2 separate regions of the Homo sapiens genome follow, and region 2 is linked to region 1. Evidence: fine-mapped expression QTL. Tissue or cell type: liver. Region 1 holds a variant in brackets; the other region holds the start of a gene. All regions are shown on one strand. Distances are between the middles of the regions.

Region 1 (8,101 bases):
TAAAAAAAAAAAAAGTGCTCAAAACACAAATACAACACCAAGACCCACAATAATGGGGTCTAGCAAAGGGACACAGAAGCCAAATGAGAGAGCGCTCAATGGGCGAAGCTGGAACAATTTGAGCAACAAGATTAATAAATCAGTATTTGATTACAACTCAAAGTATTAAAAGAAATCCACAAGCCCCTACAAATATAAGTTAGTGATTAAACAAATAAATAAATGAAGAGAAGAGACAAATGTCCATGATGGAATTCCAAATAATTTATGTAGCCAGGCATGGTGGCTCACACCTATAATTCCAGCACTTTGGGAAGCCGAGGCTCCACTGTAGCCTCGAACTCCCAGGCTCAAGAGATCCTCCTGCCTGAGCCTACCAAGTAGCTGGGACTACAGGCACTTGCCACCACGCCCGACTAATTTTTTTTTTTAATGTTTTGGAGAGATGGGGGTGTCTCACTATATTGCCCAGGCTGGTCTTGAACTCCTAGCGTCAAGGGCTCCTCCTGCCTCAGCCTCCCAAAGTGTTGGGATTAAAGGTGTGAGCCACCACACCTAGCCTCTTCTAATCTTCACAAAAATTGTGCTCTGTGAGTCAGGAACTACAGGAAGATCTCTAGAATATCATTACCTCCCTTAAAGAATGGTTCCCAGGCCGGGCGCAGTGACTCATGCCTATAATCCCAGCACTTTGGGAGGCTGAGGCGGGCAGATCACCTGAGGTCAGAAGTTTGAGACGAGGCTGACCAACATGGAGAAACCCCATCTCTACTAAAAATACAAAATTAGCCAGGCATGGAGGCACATGCTTGTAATCCCAGCTACTTTGGAGGCTGAGGCAGGAGAATCGCTTGAACCCAGGAGGCAGAGGTTGCGGTGAGCCGAGATCGCACCATTGCACTCCAGCCTGGGCAACAAGAACGAAACTCCATCTCAAAAAAAAAAAAAAGAATGGCTCCCAATCTGAGCTCTATTGTCTAGATGGGATCTGGACAGAGGGACTGTTGTCTTTTCTGCATATTCTTCTATCACCATGCCCTATTTGGGAGGTGGGTTTGCTCAAGCAGCAGTGAGGCAATGCTGTTCCTGGTGTTCTCCAGCCAGGGACCATCACACTGGCCAGTGCTGAGATAAGGAGCCTGTGGCAGAAGGTAAGCCAGTTACCTCACTAAGCACTGCTGCTCCCCTGCCTGGCCTCCACAGCAAGATTTTCTCCATGAAGGAAGCTGGATGTAGATTTCTGTTCCAGCCCAGTCTCCTGATCTCATCGAGAACTGGCACTGTGAGTGGCACTGAGCGAAGCCACTGTCCCCAGTGTTGTTTCTTCTTTCATGCTGCATCACAGACTTGACATCGAGTACATTCCCACTGCCTTTCAGTAAATGAAACTATTGGGGGTAGAATTCCTACAAAGAATTCTCACAGATGCTGGGGAGGAGGCCAGTTGGTGGGAAGGCGTGATAGGGAGGCACGGAGGAGAAGTCCTTAGATTGAGTGCCAAGACTTCTGTTTTAGTCCGGGCCTTGTCACTGACCAGCGGCGGATAAGGAAATTCCCACATCAGGACTAATTTTCCCCACCTGGTAAAGGAGGTGGCTGAGCTAGGTCATTTCTTAGGGCCTCCCAATTCTTGACCTCTAGGATCCAACCCTTGAGTCAAATGACTTCCATGCCCTAAATGTCCCCACGCTGGGCCCTTCCACAATTTTTGTGTCCTCATCGCGGCCCACTATGTTGTCTTCTCTGAGTGCTTTGCCTGGTAACAAATCAGCTGGCTTCAGAATGGGACCATCACAATGATATCTGGCTGCCAGACAAAAAGATAAGAGAATTAGAGAGTATGGAGCTGAACAGAATCCTCAAAAATGTGTCTGCCCCCAGAGACTGGTCACTACTTTTGTCAAGCATGAAGGTATCCATAAATGTGTGCCATTAGAGATGTCCTGAAGGAACTCTGATGTGCCTCTCTCACCCTCTGCCAGAGGCTGAATAATGACTTCAAATTTATCAGGTCCCAATCTCTGGAACCTGTAAAGGTTATCATTATCTTATTCTTTTGTTTTGGAGACAGAGTCATGCTCTGTTGCCCAGGCTGGAGTGCAGTGGTGCAATCATAGCTTCCTGCAGCCTTGACCTCCTGAGCTCAAGCGATCCTCCTACCTCAGCCTTCCAAGTAGCTGGGACTACAGGCGTGTGCTACCATGCCCGGGTAATTTTTTTATTTTTTGTAGAGACAGGGGTCTCACTGTGTTGCCCAGGCTAATCTTGAACTCCTGGGCTCAAGCAATCCTCCTTCTTCGGCCTCCCAAAGCACTGGGATTATAGGCATGAGCCACCACACAGGCATGAGCCACAGTGCCCAGCCAGGTTATCTTATTTGGAACAATGTTTTATTATTTGTAAATATCTTACTGTATTTGCTAATGTGATGAAATTAAGGATTTCTGAGAGAGGGAGACTATCCTGAATTATCTGGGTGGGCCTTAAATGCAACCCCAAGCATCATTATACAAGAGAGGCAAAGGAAGATTTCATACACACAGTGTCACCACGGAGGTCAACATCAAAAGGACATGGCCACAAGCCAAGGAATGCTGGCAGCCACCAGACACCAAAGGAGGCAAGGGACAAGGACCAGATGATTTCCTGGAGCCACTGGAGGGAGTACCGGCCGGTAGACCCCAGTTTTCTCCTCCAGAACTGGGAGAGAATGCATTTCTGGTTTTGTTCTGTTTTAAGCTACCAAGTTCGTGGTCATTAGTTAGAGCAGCCACAGGAAACTAACACACCCTCTTCCTAAATTTCAGGGACATCTTCCTTTCCTACAGATTTTCTCTTTTATGCTAACAAACAAAGCCACCTGTCAGGTGGGTCAGGATCCATTCTTTCAGTCAGGAGCCCAGCAGGTAACACTCTCTCTTTGACTTGAGGGTTTAATAAAGGGACCATTTACAAAGGTCTGAGGAGGGTTTGGGAGGCCACAGGAGACAGCAGCGTAGCCCAGGGCTGCCCACTGTAGGAGATGCTGTCACTGCCTTAGGCCTGAAGGGTCAGGGGAGAGAGCTGAGTGCAGGGGGTGGTTGCTGACAGGAGTCCTGGCCTTCAGTCAGCGGACACCACCAGCCCATGGAAGCAGCGGGAAAGGAAGAAGTGGACTAAATCCTCCATGACACACTCCCCTCCCTCTAAACCTACCTGCAGGTGCCCTCCTCTGGCTAAATCTACCCGGAAGCCAGATGTAAGGGTGCCAGTCTGGCCAGCCTCCCAGGCACAGCGCGGGTGGAAAACGGTGGAGAGTGATTTCTAAGGCCAAATGGAAAAATCCAGCACCCATGTAACTTTAGCTTCCTCTCAAGACTCTCCACACAACCAGTTTGGTTTCAAGAAATAGAAGGACCCCTGGACCTTGCTCTGTGACCCAAGGCAACTCCCCACCTGTCTTAAGCCTCATTTTCCAAAGCTGTGAAATGAAGGGTTTCGAATAGAGAGTAAGATCCCTTTCAGCTCTGGTGCTCATGATTCTAAAAGCAGATCTCATGCTTTTTCCCAGGCTCTGCTGATGCGTGCCTCAAGTCCTGACAGCTGTGTATGAACTAAGATGCATCTATTCAGGCCTCTCTTTTCCATGACGTATCCTTGCATCTGAACAAGCACGTGTGGTGCCTGCTGGAAATCCAGCCACTCCAAGGAAGAGAGCAGGCTGTGTTCTCACGTGGTATGCAGACACACACAAGTGTGCTGGAAAAGGAAACGTGAGACTATGAAAACCAGACCGGCCCTGGAGAGCCAGCTGTGAGAGACAAGGAGACAGGCCTAAGGCAAGCCACTCCCCGCCAGCCTGCGTCAGCAGGCCGCAGGCACCCTTGCTTGTTCCTGCAGGAAACTCAAGGGGGCATCGCAGCTAACTATGGCTAGTGCAGCCCTCAGGCTGGCCAGCAACGCGACTGCCAGGCCCGGCAGGCCAAGCAAAGCCTCGGCTGCCAGCAGCCATGCAGATGGTAATGATTAACCCGAAAGTCAAACTATGGAAAGTTCCAAGGGCCAGGAGAGTCCTTTGTTGCA[T/C]AATAAACATACCAAGCCCTCCCTGCTACCTTGGGGCATTTTGTTCTGTATCGTGTCTGCTTTTGCAACTCTTCCTTTCTGCTTGTATCTGCCTGGAACCTCATTTTAAAAACACAGGCTTATGGCCAGGCGTGTGGCTCATACCTATAACCTCAGCACTTTGGGAGGCCAACGAGGGCGGATCACCTGAGGTCAGAAGTTCAAGACCAGCCTGCCTGGCCAACATGGTGAAACCCCGTCTCTACCAAAACTACAAAAATTAGCTGGTGTGGTGGCAGGTGCCTGTAATCCCAGCTACTCAGGAGGCTGAGGCAGGAGAATCGCTTGAACCTGTGAGGCGGAGGTTGCAGTGAGTCGAGATCACACCACTGCACTCCAGCATGGGTGACAGAGCAAGACTCTGTCTAGAAAAAACAAACAAACAAACAGGCTGAAACTAAAGAAGAAGGTATCTGGTATCTTCATTGCCTCTAGAAGACTGAAAGTGCAGAAGATGTGGAAGCCCTCCCCTCTTTGCCATCCCCAAAATCTTGGGAGGCCTGGGATGAGCAACAGGTTTCCCTTCCTTTCCCCAGTTCCCCATACTTATTAAACTAGGACCCTGCGCAATGACTGATGGGCCATGAATGAGAACGGTTTACAGTGCATTATTTGAGGCAGGGACGTCTAAGGAGGACCCGAATTCCAACATTTTAAAAAACTCTCCCAGAACTGCTGATTCCTAAATTCCATTGTCCTCTTGTTTCCAGCAAAATAATTTGATTCTTGTTATAAACACGCCCATGCTTGGCCAGTGTGCGTTTTAAGGTTGTCCCGTGAATTAAGAGCCTCGAGGCTTTCCTGGAGGTGAGGAAGGAAGGGGAGCCTGGGAGAGGCTGGGAATGGGGTGGGAGAGGGGCCACCAAGAAAAAGGACAGAGGGAGAGGGCTCTGGGCACCCAGGAAGAACATCACACCCGCTTCCTACTGCTGCCGGGTGCTGTCCCTGCTGAGCTGGTGCTAGGAATTGTTCTGAAAATTCAGGTAAGCAGCCTCCTATGAAGGAACACAGCAAAAGCCTGCAGTCCGGACCTCAGACCATCAGAAAGGAGAGTGCCTTTCCCACCAGGGAACAGATAACTACAGTGGCATTTGGCCAGGGGTTTCCTGGGAATCTCCCTGCCCTAAGTGCATCTCCCCTAGTCACTGTCACACTGAAGCCTAAAAGTCCCCCAAGAGAGCTGCACCAGTGTATGAATTCATTGATTACTTTCAAACAGTTTGCTAAACATCAAGTGCTGGTTAAAGGGGGTTCTGATGGACCAAAAAAAAAAAAGAGGATCAATTCTGGATATGAGAGATGGAGGGTATTTATTGCAGAGCGGGGCTTGGTGGGAGTCCACAGCTGGGATCGTCTCTGTCTTGTTAGAGTGTGACTGAGATCTCTGGAAAAAAGAAAAAGATATCCCTGATATCTTGAGTGGCCTGGGATGAGCAGGGAAGCCTCTAGGAGAGCAGAGAGAAAGGTGAAGAAGGCAACTTGCTTCACGATTTTACCTACACCTGGAGCTGCCTGGAACAGTCTCCTTGCTCAGATGCAATTATGCCGTGCATCTCCTGTCCGGTGCCGAGTCTTCCAAACTCTGCTCTCCAAAATGTCTAAGTGTGTTTTGCCCACACTAGCGCTGTGCCCATGTTGCAAGAGTTATGACTCTTGTCCATCAGCTTCTATGTACAGTACTCTTCAAACAGACACAAATGGCTTAAGCCAGGAATTATTAGATTCACTAGAACTATAATGTTGGGTTTAAGCACTCATACCCAAATTAGATAGCCCTAAATTAGAATGCCAACTCCAATGCTTACGAGCTGTCTGCTTTTGTGCATTTTGTCTCCTTCTCTAAACCTTGCTATCGCTATTTGCAAACCGGGGATAATAATAGTATTCACCTGACAGGCGGCCATGAGGATTAAACAAATGAGGTGACGCAGGGGAAGCACTTAGCACAATGCCTGGGTCATAGTAAGTGCTCAGTCAATGTCAGCCATTGATTTATTTCTCATCTACTTCTACTTCAAGTAAAAGTTGGCAAACTAGTTTCAAGATCATTATACATGTAATCCAGACTCAGGCTGAGCTCACAAATTTGTTCTTTGAAAAAGCCACACAATTCTTTTGTAAGTCTTGATCTCCTGGGTTTTTTTTTGTTGTTGTTGTTGTTTTAAATCAGCTATATTTAGCTCTTAAATTTCATATCTCAGTTTGAAATCCTAAAGTCATCCTTCCAAAAATACAAGTGGTTCAGCAGATGGCATTGAAAAAAAAAACAAGAAAAAAACATATTTTTGCTTTATATAACATTAGGTCAGAGGTGGGACTCATTTCCACAACTACAAAGGTAAATAAATTACACTTATACCATTTTCTTTTCCTTTCCTTTCCTTTCCTTTCCCTCTTCCTTCCTTCCTTCCTTCCTTCCTTTCTTCTTTTCTTTTCTTTTCTTTCTTTTCTTTGTTGTTGTTATTTTGAGACAGAGTCTCGCTCTGTCACCCAGGCTGGAGTGCAGTGGTACAATCTTGGCTCACTGCAACCTCTGCCTCCTGGGCTTAAGCAATTCTCCTGCCTCAGCCTCTGGAGTAGCTGAGATTACAGGCACCTGGCACCACACCCAGCTAATTTCTGCATTTTTAGTAGAGATGGAGTTTCACCATGTTGGCCAGGCTGGTCTCAAACTCCTGGCCTCAAGTTATCTGTCTGCCTTGGCCTCCCAAAGTGCTGGGATTATAGGCATGAGCCACCACACCCAGCCTACACTTACTTCATTTAATGCAAGGATGTAATTTGGCAATGCCAACCCTAAAGACTAGTTTTGTTGTTGTTGTTGTTGTTGTTGTTGTTGTTTTCAGTTTTATCTCTGGGAGAACAGCTAAGCTCTTCCCTGAAGGTCCTAGGCTGTCTCCCAGGTTCCTTCCTAGCTGGGGTCCAAGCACAATCCTCCTCTCCCCAGCTCAAATTGAAATTACATTGCATTTGTTGGTGTGCATTTTATAGTTTCAAACACCAGTGACTTCATATTTCCAGACTGCTCCCAAACTACTTTTCCTTGGGTTAACACAACAACCTCTTTTACACATAACATATTTATTGAGTGTTTATCATATGCCAGATGCAATTCTAAATGCTTCATGTGGATTAACTAATCTTATCTTCATGATATCTTTGTGAAATAGGTACTGTTATTATCATCCTTCTCCAGAGGATATTATTTTGAAGAAACTGAGGCACACAGGTTTGTGTAATTTGCCCAAGATGACCAAGCTAAAATGTGACAGAGCTGAGATGTGAACCCAGGCACTCTGGCTACAGAGCCTGGCACTTTCCCATTGAACCTTACCACCTCGGTAGGGCACAGTGGCTCACGCCTGTAATCCTGACACTTTGGGCAGCTGAGGCAGGAGGATCGCTTGAGACCAGGAGTTCAAGACCAGCCTGGGCAACATAGGGAGACCCCCATCTCTACACAAAAATTAAAAAATTTAAAAAAATAGCCAGGCATAGTGGTGCATGCCTGTAGTTTCAGCTCCTGGGGAGGCTCAGGTGGGAGGATCACTTGAGCCCAGGAGGTTGAGGCTGCAGTGAGCTAGAACTAGGACTGTACCACTGCACTCCAGCCTGGATGACACAGCAAGACCCTGTATCTAAAAAATAAAACAAACAAACAAAAACTATACCACCTCTCAGAGAAAAAGTGATGTTTATCAGGGATACAGTTTGGACAAGAATTCTAACTCCACTTATTCTTAGGAGCACTCTTCCTTCCCACAGAACATTCCGTCCTGGCCCCGTGACCCTGCTCCTCCCAGCCTATTCTCAGGGGCATTCTTCGACAAAATACGAAAAAGCCACACTCACAACAATGTCCTTCTTACTTCTGTCAAACAGGGCTGCAAAAATATTCAAGGCAGTATGGCTCAGACTCAGGGGGAGGGGGCCCCAGCCCCACCTTCACCACTAAGTGGCAGGGTGCCCTCAAGCCAGTCACTCAGTGGCTCTTCCTTTC
Region 2 (8,101 bases), 53 kb before region 1:
AGCCTTCATGATCCATAAACATTTAAAAGTTTTCCTTTTAGAGAGAATGAAAAAAATGTGAGAGTCACTGGTACAGGAAGGACCAAACAATTGGGTCTCTGTGGTTTTGGGGGCCTAGGTCATCCAGGCCTCTATTCAATTGGCAAAGAATCTGGCGGGATGAATCAGTCTAGCAGCTGACAAAACGATGAGGAAGGGCCGCCCAAGCTGATGGCAATTCAAAAAGGCTTTCAAACAGCTCCTTAACATGTGTCTTATGAGCTTTATTTAAATTTGATGGAAAGGCCACCAAATAGTTCTTTCAAGCTTCAAAATCTCCCTTCTGATCTGCCAATCTTTACGGAAGAAAAGGGAAGCTATGAGGAATAAGTGTTATCTTCATCACTGAGAGTGCTACACAGCTATGCGTCGCACACAAATTCTCCAGTATATAAGCTTGCCTATTCCCATGTTGTCCCTGCCTAGAACAATGGCAAAATGCAGCCTAGGGCAAGTTGAGGGTATTGCTGAATTCTCAGCTGGGTAAGCACAGCATGGAGCTATCAATTTAAAGCAAAACCAAATCAGCTTTTTGCTGATGTCATTTTACCAATAATTCCAGCTCCATCATGCAGTCTATTACCAGAGTAACTTGACTTCCCTAGGCAACCTACGAAGAAGTTGCTAAGCAATAAAAATACTTATTAGGGAGAGGAGAAAGTCACAATCAGCACAAAGTTTAGGTAGCTAGATAACTGAAAGCTGGCGCTGCCACTTCAGGGTGACAGTGCCAGATACTGGAACAGAGAAACCACATAAAAAGGACTTCCATCCTAGAGTCCCTTCTCCACACAGCAGCCCAGGGAGCCTTTTACAAAAGAAGCTGAATCACAATCCCTCTGTTCAAAGCTCTCTGTTGTGGGCTGAATTATGTCTCTCAAAATGATATGTTAAAGTCCCAACTCCTAGTACCTATGAATGTGACCTTATCTAGAAATAGTATCTCTGAAGATGTTACCAAGTTAAGATGAGGTCAAACTGGATTAGGGTGGGCCCTAACTTCAACGACTGGTGTCCTCACAGGAAGGGCACGGTAAGACAGATACATAGGGAGAAGATGGCCATGTGTTGAGACAGAGACTGGAGTTCTGCTGCCACAAGCCAAAGAACACAAAGGATTGCAGACACCCAGCAGAGGCTAGAAGAGGCAAGGACAGACTTCCTGGAGCCTTCAGAAGAGCAAGGCCCTGCCAACACCTTGACTTGAGACTTCTGGTTCTGATTTCAATTATCCAGGACTGTGAGAGAATAATTTCTGTTATTGTAAGCCGCTAAGTTACTCTGTTATGGCAGCCCTTGGAAATGCATATGCCCTCCAGTGGCTTTCCACCTTACTGAAAACCAAATCCTCACTGCAGCAGCATCTGGACCTCCTCTGACCACGCTGACTTCAGCTCCTCCTGCTCTCTGAGTAGTCAGTCCACACTGACCTCCTGGCTGGTCCTCAAACTGTACCATGAACCCTCCACCTTACGGCCTCCCTGCAGCAGGCTGGTGCTGTCAGACCTTTGCAGATGCCACTCCTTCTGCTGGAAGGGTTCCCACCTCAGGAACCTCCAAGGCCTGCTCCCTCAATCTGCCTTCAGGTCTCTGTTCAAGTCACCTAATCATGAATGCCCCCACTAACTCCCCTTCAGCCTTCCCTATCCCCACTCCATATTCCCTATTCTCTTCCCCTGCTTTATTTTTCTCCACAGTGCTTCACACAAGCTGACATAGATATTTTGCTTAACCCTTCACAGGTTCTCCCTCCACAATGTTAGCTCGAGAGAGCAGGACTTCACTGCTGAATCACAGTGCACTCTATTTAGTAAATAAGCATATGAATTCTGTTGGGATAGGTGAAATTTTATTCTGAACTGGCTGTGTGACAAAAAAGGTTTCTACTAATTAAGTGAGACAACGGAAGCTCCTGCAGATGAAGGGCTGGGCTCTGAGGGGCTGGGAGGGAATCCATGTGCCAGGTTTTCCTAAGTAGACTGAAGGGCTCTCACCACATCCCTGCATGGAAGTGGGCGAGGTGAGTGATTCCGAAAAAGCCTCTTAAGAACCTCCCTATCAAAAATTAAGTCAAGTCTTACCTGTAATTTTTGTCTCCAGCCACACCCCAGTAGAAAGCAACTTAGCCTGAGGAATTTGTGAAGTCAAATATAAACATGATCTTCCTACTTCATTACTATACATATTTTTTTAGGGGCTGAGGAGAAAGGCCTAGTAGGAATGTTTGATAATGATAATCTTATACTGCAAATGCACAAACTCTACTCAGAGGAGAAAGCCTCGATCACCACACCCCTAAAAATACATAAGCCAGGAGGTTTCAAACAGCTCTTTCTTAGTCAAACTCTCTTAAATGGTCCTAAATTTACACTTTTTTCCTTCCTTCATTGATATTTTTCAAAACTTTTGAAACAAAACAGGCAGGAAAAATGCAAGTTTTTCTTTACCTTGGCTTTTGGCCCCAGGTCCTGCCAATCCGAGTGATGGATCACAGGACTCCTTGAAAGGTGATCGGATCGGGGTTTCAGCTTCAGGAGTCTCAAAATTACCTTCAGAATCCGAGCTGCCAAGGAGGAAAAATGAGGAATTACCACTTTCAACGGTATTTCCGACACCCTTTGAAATCTACATATTCACAGAGGCTAAAAGTCCAGCACTTTTGTCTAACTTCACAACCAACCGGTCCTCAGCAGGGTCTGACCTGCGGGAGGCAACTGCGGTCTCTGAGCAGTGCCCTCCTTGGGTTTCTCAGGCTGGCATCCTGTCTCTCTGAAAGCTCCTCCATTCCCTGGAGCTTTTCTCCAGCACCATTTATTTTCGAGGTCATCCTTCCCTCAGACACCTGAAAAATGCGCTTTTCCAACAGACTCCTTTTGTCACAAGAGCCCTTTCCCAGAGGCTTTAACAATTAATACTGGTCCCACCCCCGAGTTAGGCCGATGCTAGGCATTCCTCTTTGCTCGGTAGGCCTCTACCTGCTGGAACTCCCTGGGCCCGAGGCTAAGAATGGTGTCACCTGCCTTCCGCAATCACGCGGATGACAGCCCGGCAGAGACCACCATTTCCCAGCAGCTGCCAGGGGCCTGTCATCACGCGACCTTCTTCACCGCGGCTGCGTTTTGGGTACACGGTAGGGCCCCGGGAAGGGCCGGGGAGCGACTTCTTCCCCACGGGGGGGCCCTAAGTTGCACTGGGTTAGATCAGTGACGTTGCTCCAGTGTGGAGGGGCGGGGGCTGGGGGTCGAAGCTTAGAGAAAGTGACCGAGGCCAGCGGGGATGCGGAGAGACTGCAGATTCTGGGTTGGGTGCGGAACTCTCCTAGCGAAACGGGGGCCAGAAACCCCACGGGAGGACAGAAGATCCTGAACTTTCGGACGCACACGGGGACCCGGCTCCGGGCAGGGACGCGGCACGGCCGTGAGGACGGTTTCGCGGGTGGCGACCACACACACGCACACAGAGGGAGTCGCAGATGGATGGAGGCAAGCGCGTCTGCATCTCAGCGGGGACGCCGTGTACTTGCCTGAAACTCAAGGATTTGGTCTCGGCTTGCGAATCCTCCTCCTCGGGGTCGCCCTCGGGCCCGCCAGCCTCGTCCTCGCCGGCGGCCCCGCCGCGTACCGCAGACCACGTCCATTTCGCCCACTGCACGGGGGACAGGATCTGCCACGGGCTGAACGCCATGAGCGCGGCTCCTCCGGCTCCAGCTCCTAGGGGCAGGGGAATGGGTGGGGAGAGCCTTTTTCCCTTTCAAAATGGAGGGAACCGGTGACAGGCGCCAGCAAGCGTTTCCAGCAGAGGCGCGGATGTGGTTAAACGAGTGCCGTCGGGGGCCCTGGTGGAGCGCTTCCTCCCGCCGGCAGCCGGCGCTGCGTCCTCCTCGGCCTCCTCCCCTCACGGTGCGGCCGCAGCGGGCCCCGCGCCGGGCTCCACTAGCCGGGAAGACGCCCGTCCTGTGGCCTCCTCAGGCCCCCGGCCCGCGGCGCCCGGCTGCTAGACCTCTGCTGCTCCCGCTCCCGGCTCGCGGACTCCCGCCTCCCGGCCGGCGGGGCGCGCATCAGCTGCCGCCGGAGCCGCGCCCCAGAAGCCGCCCCCTCGGACCGTACTACTCGCGCGCGCGCGCGGGGGCGGCGGCGGCGCCGGGGCTTTGAAGACGGCCGCGCGCCCGCCGGATCCCCCTACCGCGGCGTCACGCTGGTCGCGGCCCGACTGAGGGCCGGGGCTTGCCGGCTGCGCGGGGAGATTCGGTCATACCCCACAGGTCCGCCGGCGTCCGGGGCAGAGGAGGACCGTTTTCTGAGCCGGGGCACGCTGTCCTCTTCCTCTTTCCTTATTCCTTTTTAAAATTTTTTTAAACATTTTCATCTTGCCACTGTGACTTCACGGCGATGGTGATATTGGACTGCACACAAGCCCCTTGTTACCAAAAAAAAAAAAATACAAACCTTCGCGGCCGCTGTGGACTGTTGTTTTCCCCTCCCTAACCCTGGCAGCGTGGGGGATTTCAGCCTGTTCATCTCCATCCCTGGCATTCCCGGGATTTGAAAATCCCTTGGCAAAGCCACAAGAGTGACCGAGGACTGGAATTTAAGATGCCCTCCCCCTCCCCAAACCGCACTCGGGGAGGCTTCCCAAGTGCCCAGGTCTTGTCTTAGGTAAAGGGTACTAAATTCCCTGTGAGATTACAGCCTGATGGGTTTCCCATTCTCCATATTTATTTATTTAAAATACAGACAGGCGTCTCGATATGTTGCCCAGGCTGGTCTTGAACTCTTGGCCACAAGCGATCCTCCCGCCTCTGCCTCCCAAAATGCTAGGATTCCAGGCCTGACACCGCGCCTGACCCCATTCTCCTTTTTGAGATTTTCTTTTCGTAACTTCTAAGTCTTTGATTTCTGACTTATTTCGCTGCTTCAGTAACAAGCCAAGAGGCCTGGCGACATCTTTAGGTTTGAAGGCAATGGGAAATAGCTGATGTTCTCCATTTCCCATGGAGGGATTTCATGTAGGGATTGTTCCTCTCAAAACCACCAAAGCACCTTCTTCCAAGTGAATCGATTGCCTCAAACACCAGGCTTAATGATCTCCTTGCCTGGATAAGGTGTTCCAGGTGGTACTGTAATTTCCGAGTTGTGGTGCATCCATGAGGTGCCTGCAGGTTCCCACAGAGACAGCAGCTCCAAAATGTGCACGTTGAAACTTGCAAGAGACTAACCGTTGCCTCTGAAAGCAGTTGGCATGTATATTCATCGTGACTGTTTTACACATTTGATAACAAAAACAGGAGCAAAATACAAGATAAGGCTTGGCAGGGTAGTTTTACCAAAACCGAAGGGCAGGAGTTAACCTGAAGTCTAGAGAAAAGAAAGGGGTGGGGTGTCAGGATGCTTTCGAATTCATCCTGGCTTCTTCCCAGAAATAAATTGTCATGAGTGTTCTAGCGACTATAAAGAAGTGAACTAGGCAGGAGGTCCATGTGAAATATATCACACCACTTATCCAACTGTTGTAGTTTTAGGTTTATGCTTACCCAGTAAAACTTCAGGTTCTACAGTCCCCCAGGCTCCTGGATTTGACACAGGGTTCTGTTTCTGGGAAATAATATTACCCCAGCAAATCAGTAACTAGCATACACTAGGACCTGTTCTTCCTCCTGAATAGTTCTCTTATCTTTTCATTCCTTTGCATCCCTGTGGTGACTGACATAGTTCCCGCACTCCCCATCTTTCATGATCTACTGTAAATAACTCCCACCTGGTTTTACCTCTGAAGGTTTTCTTGCCTGAGGTCACCCCTGCCTGGCTGATCAGTGACTCGTGCTCTAATCTTTCGGTTCCCATTCCCCTCTATGCCCATCCTTTTGTATTCCTAGCCACAGTGAGTAGAGAACTCGTTGTCAATCTTTAATATGCCCAAGAATCATCCGCCAGCCTTCTTAAAAAAATCCAAATTGCCAGCAGAGTCTGGAAATCTGTGTGTTCACTAAGTGTCCTGGGGAACTGTTATCACAGGGTAAATTTGGGAAACAGTGCCTAGCTTGAACCAACTGCTTACTGCTTCGGGAACAGTCTCCCTTTGCCTGCAGAGGGAGCTTTGCGAATTCCTGGAACACACCTCCTCCCCCACCCCAGCCCACCCCAAGTTCCCAGGCTTCAGCTGCTCGAACGTCCTTCAGCACTTAGCTCAAGTGTCTACAGGGGGAAGCAGGCTCATTGTCCTTCCTTTCTATCATTTCTATACCCCGAACATCCATAAAGAACACTTCCTGTGGCCTTAGATCTGAAAGTGAAAGACAGCATTCTTAATAGTTACACAGGGACTATAGGCATAAACCAGGACTGTCTCCAGAAGACCAGGATGTAAGGCCATTCTACACTTAGCACACCATATATAACATATTTATTTACATATCTGTCCCACAAGCTTCTAAAGGGACTTTACCCCCCTTTGGGACTTCCTCCAGAAATTAGGACAGAACCACACACTCAGTAGGTGTTCAATATATATGTAAGAAAAAACAAACATTCTAGTTTACAAATAGTCCTTGTGAGTTTGGCTAAGGTGACATAAATTCCTAAAGCCTGACTCCCCCTGGGGAAATCTAGTTTCTGGGCCAGAAAATAACAGAACCCAGGACCAAGTGATGGCCCCAGTAAGATTAAGCCTCACCTATGCAGCAATTTACTTTTTTTTTTTTTTGAGATGGAGTCTCACTCTGTCACCCAGGCTGGAGCACGGTGGTGCAGTCTCAGCTGACTGCAACCTCCGCCTCCTGGGTTCAAGCGATTCTCCCTGCCTCAGCCTCCCAAGTAGCTGGGATTACAGGTTCCTGCCACCATGCCCAGCTAATTTTTTTATTTTTTAGTAGAGACGGGGTTTCATCATGTTGGCCAGGCTGGTCTTGAACTCCTGACCTCAGGTGATCCACCCACTTCCAAAGTTCTGGGATTATAGGTGTGAGCCACCGCACCCGGCCTGCAGCAACTTCTTGAGACTGGACTAGCAAATAAATGCCTAAGGTTTCTGAAAATCACTCCTCTGCAAGTTCTTGAACTTAGTGTAAGCAGTAATGAATATGAGTCCATTAGCTGGACCACTCCTCTCAGTCTGCTGCTCCTAGTCCTGGCTTCGTTCTTACCTGGTACAGGTTGCAAAGTCACAACTAGGAACACTCTAGCCCTGTCAGTGAAGACGTGCCATTGCCAACAGGAGGCTGTGGCCACCCTATCTGCTTTTCTGCCCTACCTCAGTCTAACCAGGCAAGGGCATGATGATGTCTAATCAAGACAACATTGCCAATAACAGCATCTGACCGCATTCAAATATGTTAACATGACAGTCTTAACCTTGCAAGATCAGATATTTACCTAATTATCCTTTACCTGTAGACTACAAACATCTATAGAATTACAATCTTCCCTCCACTACCCAAACACCGAAATCAGGACTGTGTACAATGCATTTATACAGAAAATTATAAAGAGAAGCTCCTTTCTAATTTTTTAAAAGAGAGGTGTCAGGGTATGTTCATAGCTAATACTCTTTCAGGCTGGGTGCGGTGGCTCATGCCTGCAATCCCACACTTTGGGAGGCCAAGGCAGGCAGATCACTTAAGGTCAGGAGTATGAGACCAGCCTGGCCAACATGGTGAAACTCCATCTCTACTAAGAATATAAAAATAGCCAGGTGTGGTGGCAGGCGCCTGTAATTCCAGCTACTCGGGAGGCTGAGGCAGGAGAATCACTTGAACCGGGGAGGCAGAGATTGCGGTGAGCCGAGATCATGCCACTGTACTTCAGCCTGGGCAACAGAGTGAGACTCCATCTCAAAAAAAAAAAAAAGAAAATACTCTTTCAGAGTTCCAGGAAGATTAACAAAGATCCAAACTGCATTTATTAAAGACTTGGCTGAGCCCCCCACCTGGGGTCTGCTGAAAGACCCTTGCCCAGACTTTGCTCTGGTGAACAACTCTTGTCATATCCACCCATTGATCTGTTTTCTTCTGTATCACAGAAGAAAAGTTTGCTTTCCCCAGGAAGTATACCATTCAACCTAGGTCACA

Direction of the effects. Positions count from the first base shown, and alleles are read on the strand shown. Sizes are in standard deviations (SD) of each study's normalised expression.
For the expression in liver of the gene that starts at base 4,070 in region 2, allele C in region 1 goes with a higher level than allele T (small effect, 0.27 SD a copy in GTEx).

What was found. PIP is the estimated chance that this variant, and not a neighbour inherited with it, causes the effect.
Region 2: TACC1 starts here. The variant in region 1 is fine-mapped to the expression of TACC1 in liver (GTEx, PIP above 0.99).

What each region holds. Positions count from the first base shown.
Region 1 is chr8:38,730,579-38,738,679 of GRCh38, reverse strand. It overlaps a transcript of TACC1 not described here. Among named protein-coding and RNA genes, the nearest start is that of TACC1, 53 kb to the left of the region's middle. RefSeq lists enhancers at 2,692-3,191, 3,772-4,271. The variant T/C (reference allele first, on the strand shown) is at 4,063.
Region 2 is chr8:38,783,205-38,791,305 of GRCh38, reverse strand. TACC1 (transforming acidic coiled-coil containing protein 1) reads right to left here and starts at 4,070. Exons shown (of 13, transcript NM_006283.3): 1 at 3,563-4,070; 2 at 2,487-2,602. The coding sequence starts at 3,723. RefSeq lists a silencer at 3,807-4,346 and an enhancer at 4,387-4,466.